Linked DNA regions of Homo sapiens. The protein of the gene in region 1 interacts with the protein of each later gene in a pairwise test. Each region holds a gene or a part of one and is shown in the gene's direction. Other genes may lie near its edges. The genes, in order: FHOD1 and BBS4.

The links.
Region 2: the proteins of FHOD1 (region 1) and BBS4 interact in a two-hybrid assay, tested with the Homo sapiens proteins (one study listed by BioGRID and IntAct).

The regions. Positions count from the first base shown.
Region 1 is NC_000016.10:67,237,419-67,241,233, reverse strand, and holds part of FHOD1 (FH1/FH2 domain-containing protein 1), read left to right. Parts: intron 1-1,779; coding exon 1,780-1,886; intron 1,887-2,266; coding exon 2,267-2,331; intron 2,332-2,348; exon of another isoform or gene 2,349-2,421; intron 2,422-2,786; coding exon 2,787-2,854; intron 2,855-2,926; coding exon 2,927-3,032; intron 3,033-3,105; coding exon 3,106-3,200; intron 3,201-3,465; coding exon 3,466-3,577; intron 3,578-3,664; coding exon 3,665-3,759; intron 3,760-3,815. UniProt on the Homo sapiens protein: Required for the assembly of F-actin structures, such as stress fibers. Depends on the Rho-ROCK cascade for its activity. Contributes to the coordination of microtubules with actin fibers and plays a role in cell elongation.
Region 2 is NC_000015.10:72,713,403-72,717,217, forward strand, and holds part of BBS4 (BBSome complex member BBS4), read left to right. Parts: intron 1-1,888; coding exon 1,889-2,000; intron 2,001-3,375; coding exon 3,376-3,448; intron 3,449-3,815.

The DNA.
Region 1 (3,815 bases):
CAGGCCTGCCCAAGGCACCCTGGGGAGGGCAGGCAGCCAGGCAGGAAGTGGGACAGAGAACAGGCTGGAGTGTTTGTCCTATGTCCCAGGTCCCAGGCGGGGGTGGGCGGGGGGGGGGGTCATCCAAGGGCCCCACAGGCTAAACTGTGGGGAAGGAGCCAGGTCAGGCTCTGAGGCAGGCGCAAGGGTTGCTAAACAGAGGTAGGGGTTGAGGCAGGAGCTGGACTCCCTTTTTCTCCAGGGGACCAAGGCCAGTTGGAAGCCCTTGGGCAGGGTCCAGAAGAGGGCAGGGCTGACCAAACAGCAGGACAAATGTTGGAATTGACATGCCCAGTAAGATGGAGACCAGAAGACACCCTGCCTCTCCAGAGGTGGGCTCTCCCTGGGCCAAGGCATCTCAAGGGCCAGAGCCACTTAAGTCAAGGAGACTTTGCTGAACCTGCATATCTGCACTGTGCAATGGAGGGAGGTGTCTGGGAGAGGTAGAGTGCCACCCTCCGACTCACAGGAGTCACCTCCCTCAGGCTTCTCTACAGGCACTTCTCAAGGGGCTAAGTGCCATGCCTTGTGGCGGGGGAGGAGAGCCCGGGGAGGGAAACATGGACACGTGGATGGAGCATGTGCCTGCTTGTTACAAAGGCAGGCTTTGGGGTCCTACTGTAGACTGAGTCAGACTCTTAAGTGTTTTGTTTTGTTTTGTTTTTTGAGACAGAGTCTCACTCTGTCTCCCAGGCTAGAGTGCAATGACATGATCTCGGCTCACTGCAATGTCTGCCTCCTGGATTCAAGCAATTCTCCTGCCTCAGCCTCCCCAGCAGTAGCTGGGATTACAGGCACCCGCCATCATGCCTGGCTAATTTTTGCATTTTTGTAGAGACGGGGTTTCACCACGTTGGCCAGGCTGGTCTAGAACTCCTGACCTTAGGCGATCCACCCTCCTCAGCCTCCCAAAGTGCTGAGATTACAGGCGTGAGCCACCACGCCTGGCCTAAAGTTAGTTTTTTAATAGGCCCCTTGGGTGTCTCTGAGGTCCAGCTAGGACCATTGTAACTGTAGCCCACTTTGGGAGAGGCCAAAGACCCTGAAATCTGGTGGGACTGGGAAGTCTATGGATCAGACCCTGTCTTCACCCTCTTACTCACTGAGACACACACACACACAGACACACTCTCCCGGGTGGGTTTGCACCTCCCAGCCATCTTAACACTTTCTTTCTGGGGCTTAATGCTTTGTGACTATAGCTTATCACCCCACAGGGCTGTGAGCTTCCTCGAAGGCAGGAACTTCCTCCCATCTTCTCTCCATTCCCCTTCCTCATCTGTGTTTATTAGCTCAACAAGTCCTAGTGAGTGCTTACTGTGTGTCAGGTGCTATGCCAGGCTCTATAGATACAGCAGGGAGCAAGACAGACGGAGTGCCTGAACGCAGAGAACGCAGCTAGAGGAGACCAGTGGCTCGGATATTAGAATGCTGTGTGGAAGGTCTCGAAAGGGAGCATACACACAGGGTGGAGTGGGTTGCATAGCAACCTAAAGAATAGGTAGGTATCAGCCAGGAGAGGAGATGGTACAAACAAAGGCCAAGAAAGCCTGGTGCCTGACACAGATGGGCTTTGCACATAGTAGGTGCTTGAGAAGCAACTGCTGAAGGAATGCACAGCTGTAGTGCAGACCCTGTGTCTCTCTGCCACCCTTCAAGTGGTAGGTAAGAGGTCAGGGGTCTTCATACATTCGCCTGCCACCTCTTCCTCAGTCTCACAGCTGTTCCCTTTGCCCCCAGTTGGAGGATTGTGCTCTGCAAGTGTCTCCCTCCGGATACTACCTGGACACCGAGCTGTCCCTGGAAGAGCAGCGGGAGATGCTGGAGGGCTTCTATGAAGAGATCAGGTCAGAACTGATGGGGCCAGGGAGGCAAGGTTACCCCCACCCTTGCCAGGGGCTAGCTCAAATGTCAGCAGCTGAGACACTCGATCACTAGCCTGAGCCATGGGTCACCTCCTGCCCCAGGGAAGTGTGCCAGGGGAATTCTAAAGCCTGGCCAGTGTTACCTGCTGCCCAAGGTGGGAGTTAGGGGCTCTCCCACATACCTGAGATACATGTGTTTGCACCAACCCTCTTGTCCGACCAACCCTTGGGTTCTTGGAGGAGCAGCTGGGAGGAACAAGCTGGGCTGGGGCTGGCATGGGGAGGTCTTTGGCTCCCTTGGCTTGTGGGGAGGAATGCTGAGGGATAGGCTGGGAGCTGCTAACAGAGATCCTTGATTCCAGCAAAGGGCGGAAGCCCACGCTGATCCTTCGGACCCAGCTCTCTGTGAGGGTCAACGCTATCTTGGGTGAGTGTGTGAGAGCATCCATGTCCAGCAGCACCTCCTCCCCATAGCCCAGTTGGCTCACCTTCAGGCCTGTGCTGAACAGTGAGCAAAGTAGGTTTAGCTGTATGTGCTCCTTCCTCTCCCTATCCTGACCTCTTCTTCCAGGGCCATGGTGGGAGTGGAGGGGGATTCAAGAATGTTAGAATAGACCAGGCGTGGTAGCTCATGCCTCCAATGCCAGTGCTTTGAGAGGTCAAGGTGGGAGAATTGCTTGAGGCTAGGAGTTTGAGGTTGCAGTGAGCTATGACTGTGCCACTGCACTCCACACTCCAGCCTGAGTGACAGAGTGAGACCCTGTCTCTCAGACCAAAACATATATATTAGACTATTCTTTGGTGGAGAGTTGTGGTTGTATCCAAGCAGAGGAAGACAGTGAGTCTGTGTCCATCAAGGGTTTTATACCCTACCTTTTGCAGAAAAGCTGTATAGCTCCAGTGGTCCTGAGCTCCGCCGCTCCCTCTTCTCACTGAAGCAGATCTTCCAGGTGAGGCCCCGCAGTGGGCTGGGGGTAAGTGTGTAGCCCAAGCTTCCCTAAACTCCCCCATGGTGCCTCTAGGAGGACAAAGACCTGGTGCCTGAATTTGTGCATTCAGAGGGGCTGAGCTGCCTGATCCGTGTGGGTGCTGCTGCCGACCACAACTACCAGAGCTACATCCTTAGAGGTCAGCCCCGCCCCTCTCCCATGACCTCTGCTCCAGCGACCCTCGCTGACTCTGCCCATCCCTGTTTCCCCAGCGCTCGGCCAGCTGATGCTCTTTGTGGATGGAATGCTGGGGGTGGTGGCCCACAGTGACACTATTCAGTGGCTGTACACATTGTGTGCCAGCCTGGTAAGTGGCTCTCCACTCAGCCTTATACCCTTTGCCTGTTGCTTCTCTCTGGGCCTCAGTTTCCTGTTCTGCAAAGTGAGCTGGAAGGGAGTGAGTCTGAGGCCTCTGTAAGCCTATAAGGCACTTCAGTGCCTGGGCCTGGGGCCAGGGTCATTCTGCCTAGATTCTCTCTGGGTCCAGCCCCAGCAGCCCTTCCCCTTCCCCAGCAACAGCTGGCACAGGTCTGGCCTAAGCCCCACTCATATGTACTGACCTCTCTCCTCAGTCCCGCTTGGTGGTGAAGACAGCCCTGAAGCTGCTGTTGGTGTTTGTAGAATACTCCGAAAACAACGCACCGCTGTTCATCCGTGCAGTGAACTCTGTGGCCAGCACCACCGGTCAGAGACTGTCCCTTTCTCCCCCCACCGCTCAGAGCCCTCTCTCCTACCTGTTCCCCCATGACTGCTCCACTTTCTGTGTGGCAGGTGCTCCTCCCTGGGCCAATCTGGTGTCCATCCTGGAGGAGAAGAATGGCGCTGACCCTGAGTTGTTGGTGTACACGGTCACCCTCATCAACAAGGTGTGGCCAAGGACTGGGTGCCAGCTCTGGGATGCTCAGGCTCCTGACCTCCCCAC
Region 2 (3,815 bases), on another chromosome or scaffold:
ATCACTGTCTTCCACCTCCTTATGGAAGGTCTTCAGTGGCAATAACATACATGGAGCTGTCATCTCCTATAACAATAGGAATACCTTCTGGAATACCTCCTGAAGGATCTGCCTGAGGCAGTTATTCTTTTTTTTAGTAAGTGGAAGGAGTACACTCTAAAATAAAGATTAAAATGTATAGCGTAGTAAATACATAAACCAGTAATGTAGTCATTTATTATCAAGTATTAAGTTCTATATATATGTAATTGTATATGCTGTACTTCTATGTGACTGGCAGCACAGTAGGTTTGTTTATACCAGCATCACTACAGATAGGTAAGTAATGCATTGCACTGTTTTGATTGCTATGACGTCACTGGGCAATAGGAATTTTTCCTCTTCATTATAATCTTAAGTGATCATCATCATTTATACAGCTGTCGACCAAAATGTCATTACAGGTGCATGAGTTTAAATGTTCCAGAAAGGTTTTATTCAGTATTAATCTTTTTATGGAATCTGAATATAATTACTGTGTTGGATTTGACTTCAGAAATGACTAGTAATGTTAAAAAATTGCTATGATTACCCATTTTTTAGTTTCTGGCTAGTGTTTTTTGGAATGGATGCTTAGGATTCCTGCCTAATGCAGTGATTTCAGGGCCAAAAGATGCTTTTGGAAGGATTGCTTGTAATCAAGCTAAAAGAGATGAAGAAGAGCTTGAGGATTTCTGTAAGGTGAATCAGGATGAGGGGAAGAAGCCTGGAAATAAACAAGATAAAGCAGAGCATAAATTCAGCTCATTAGAAACCAAAGATAAGGACCACTCACTTACTTTTTTTTTTTTTTTTTTTTTTTGAGACAGAGTCTTGCTCTGTTGCCCAGGCTGGAGTGCAGTGGTGCGATCCCAGCTCACTGCAACCTCTGCCTTCCAGGTTCAAGCGATCCTCCTGCCTCAGCCCCCCTATTAGCTGGGATTACAGGCACATGCCACCATGTCCAGCTAGTTTTTGTATTTTTAGTAGAGACAAGGTTTTGCCATATTGGCCAGGCTGGTCTCGAACTCCTGACCTCAGGTGATCCACCTGCCTTGGCCTACCAAAGTGCTGGGATTACAGGCATGAACCACTGCACCTGGCCCACTGACTTAAATTTTCCTCTTTAGTGGCATAAGTAGCATTCTTAGTTTTTCCAGGAACTTTCTTTTTGACTCTTGGGTGTAAATAAATGGTTTTGTTTACCATTCATTGCATTTGTAGTCTTCAGATTAACATATAATTTTCTGACATAATTGTTAAGATATTGACAAATTTAGGACATCATGGCAAAAAATGCTCTTATTCCCAGTGTCACAAGTATCAGACTTTCAGTGCCTGATAAATTCTTCTGGAAACATAGGCCTAGGAAAAACCTCTGGTTCTAATTGGTTGTTACACTGACAACTGAAGTCTTAAATGTTACTTTATCCTTTGCCAGAATCTCCATGTTGAATTTGAGGTATTGATTCCATTTGCCCCATTTGGGGGTTCGCTCTGAAAACTATCAGTTGGAAGTAAATTATGATAAATGAAGCATCTGATGGGGAAGCCCCAAAATGTTGTTAATGTGAAGAGTTTGTGTGATAATTTGCAAAGGAACTGATTATCTATGTGATGGATCCTGGGAGTAGAGAGAGAAGTAGGTAGGTTTGAGCTACCTTGCTAAAAGACAGTTGAGCTTGTCAGCAGTTTTGGTTGTTGTTTCAGCCTGTCCAAAGCCATATCTGATTGTTTTAAGGATACAGTTGTCCAAAGGATTTACTTGATGTGGTTTCCCAGTTTTCTCTTCTCCAATTTTTCTGACCCCAGGCTCCATTCTTCCCAGAACATGGTTTTACTTTTTTTTGTATTTTCTGTTTCTTGGCAGCATTGATATTTCGCCTAGAAGGAAATATCCAAGAATCCCTAGAACTCTTCCAGACATGTGCAGTTCTTAGTCCTCAGAGTGCTGATAACCTCAAGCAGGTGGCCAGATCTTTGTGAGTATTGGCAACCTGGAGGCCCTAGGGCACTCACAGAGAACAGTGTAAAATGCATTCCTAGGTCCAGCCTGCTGCTGGCAGCTGCATCAGCCTGATACACAAGTGGGGGAATGGTTTAATAGGTACAGTGGGATTCACTCTGAAGAGCATGGATTAAGTTTGAAATTTGAGAAAATGAGATAACTAGTGTTAAGGAACTAAGCATTTTAAACACTGTGCATTCTAGTTTGATGGGGGACCAATATTGTTTATCATGTAAATAGAGACACCTTGTACCCTAAGTCTTCTAAACTTATTGGCAATCCTTGGAATTTTTCTCATCTACTCTTCTAACACTTAGTATTTGTCACACAGTAAGTTTTTAGTAAGGACAGAGAGTTCCTGACTTCTGATGGTTCAACTTACATAATTTTTCAACTTTACAATGATGTAAAATTGTTATGTATTCAGTAGAAACTGTACTTCAAGTATCCATACAGCCATTCCGTTTTTCATTTTCAGTATAGTATTCAGTAAATTACATGAGATATTCAGCATTTTATTATAAAGTTGGCATTGTGTTAGATGGTTTTGCCTAACTGTCAGCAAATGTAGTTAAGAAAGTGGAGATAGGAACTCCATGGAACAGAGTAAGTGTTCTGAGCATGCTTAAGATAGGCTAGGCTATCTATGATGTCTGGTAGAGTAGATGTATTACATGCATTTTTGAATTACAGTGTTTTCAATTTACAATGGGTTTACTGGGATGTAACCCCATCATAAGTTGAGGAGCATCTCTATTTGTTGAGTGAATGTCCTAAAGATTCCTAGATGGAAAGAATCTCAAGTGTTTATAAACTACTAGGTACTCCCTTTTCAGTCCTTTGTTCCATGGAGTTCCTATCTCCCCTTTCTTAGCCACATTGCCATTCATACCTGTGTTGTTTTTGCATAGAGCTTGGTTTTCCCTGTTTCTCTCTAAACTCAGGATCCAATATCAAGGAAAGAGACTTAGTCTTGGAAGGAAAGGATGTGTCCCTAATGGGTGATGATAAATGATGGTAGTTACTGCTTAACATGGTATATCATTAGGCTTATTTCTTTTTTGGTCTGCATTTATAGTACATTGTAGAAGAAAAATTCCACAAGACTCTCACTAAAATTGGTATAGAATGAGACCAAGGCCTTGGAACAGCTGCCAGTGCAATCCCTACTAAGAGAGCTTCTGCTGTTAGTGTATAGCAGCTTCACTGACCAAACCAGCACAACCACCTCATAGAGAAAAGGCTTCTAGAATTCTCTGCTGGATGAAATATGATTAAAATGTGGGACTAGTAGGGTTAGTCTTCTAAGAATTTTGAGGTAATAATTATGGAAAATATATCTTTTACAGATTTCTTTTGGGAAAACATAAAGCTGCCATTGAAGTATATAATGAAGCAGCTAAACTCAACCAGAAAGATTGGGTAAGTAGAGAACTTTCAGTTCTTTCTTATTAGTAAACTTGCTAATGGTTCCATTTATCATCTGGCTGTCTTATTTCTGAATTCTTACATTCCAAAAATGTCTTGATTTTAACCTCATACTTAATTCATGATTTGTATAAGTATAGGATCAAAAACCATGTTTCCTCATAACTTTGCAGGCATTGCTGCATGATTTTCTAGCAGTTTGCTGACGAGCAGTCTCTTACCAGTCTGATTCTTGTTGATGACCCCTAGAAGCTTTGGGTATTTTTTTCGTCATTGGAATTCCACAGTATCAGCAATAGGCATCTAGTTGTGTTTCATGTCTTTTTCCCGTCCCCATCTGTGTGACATTCAATTGACTCTT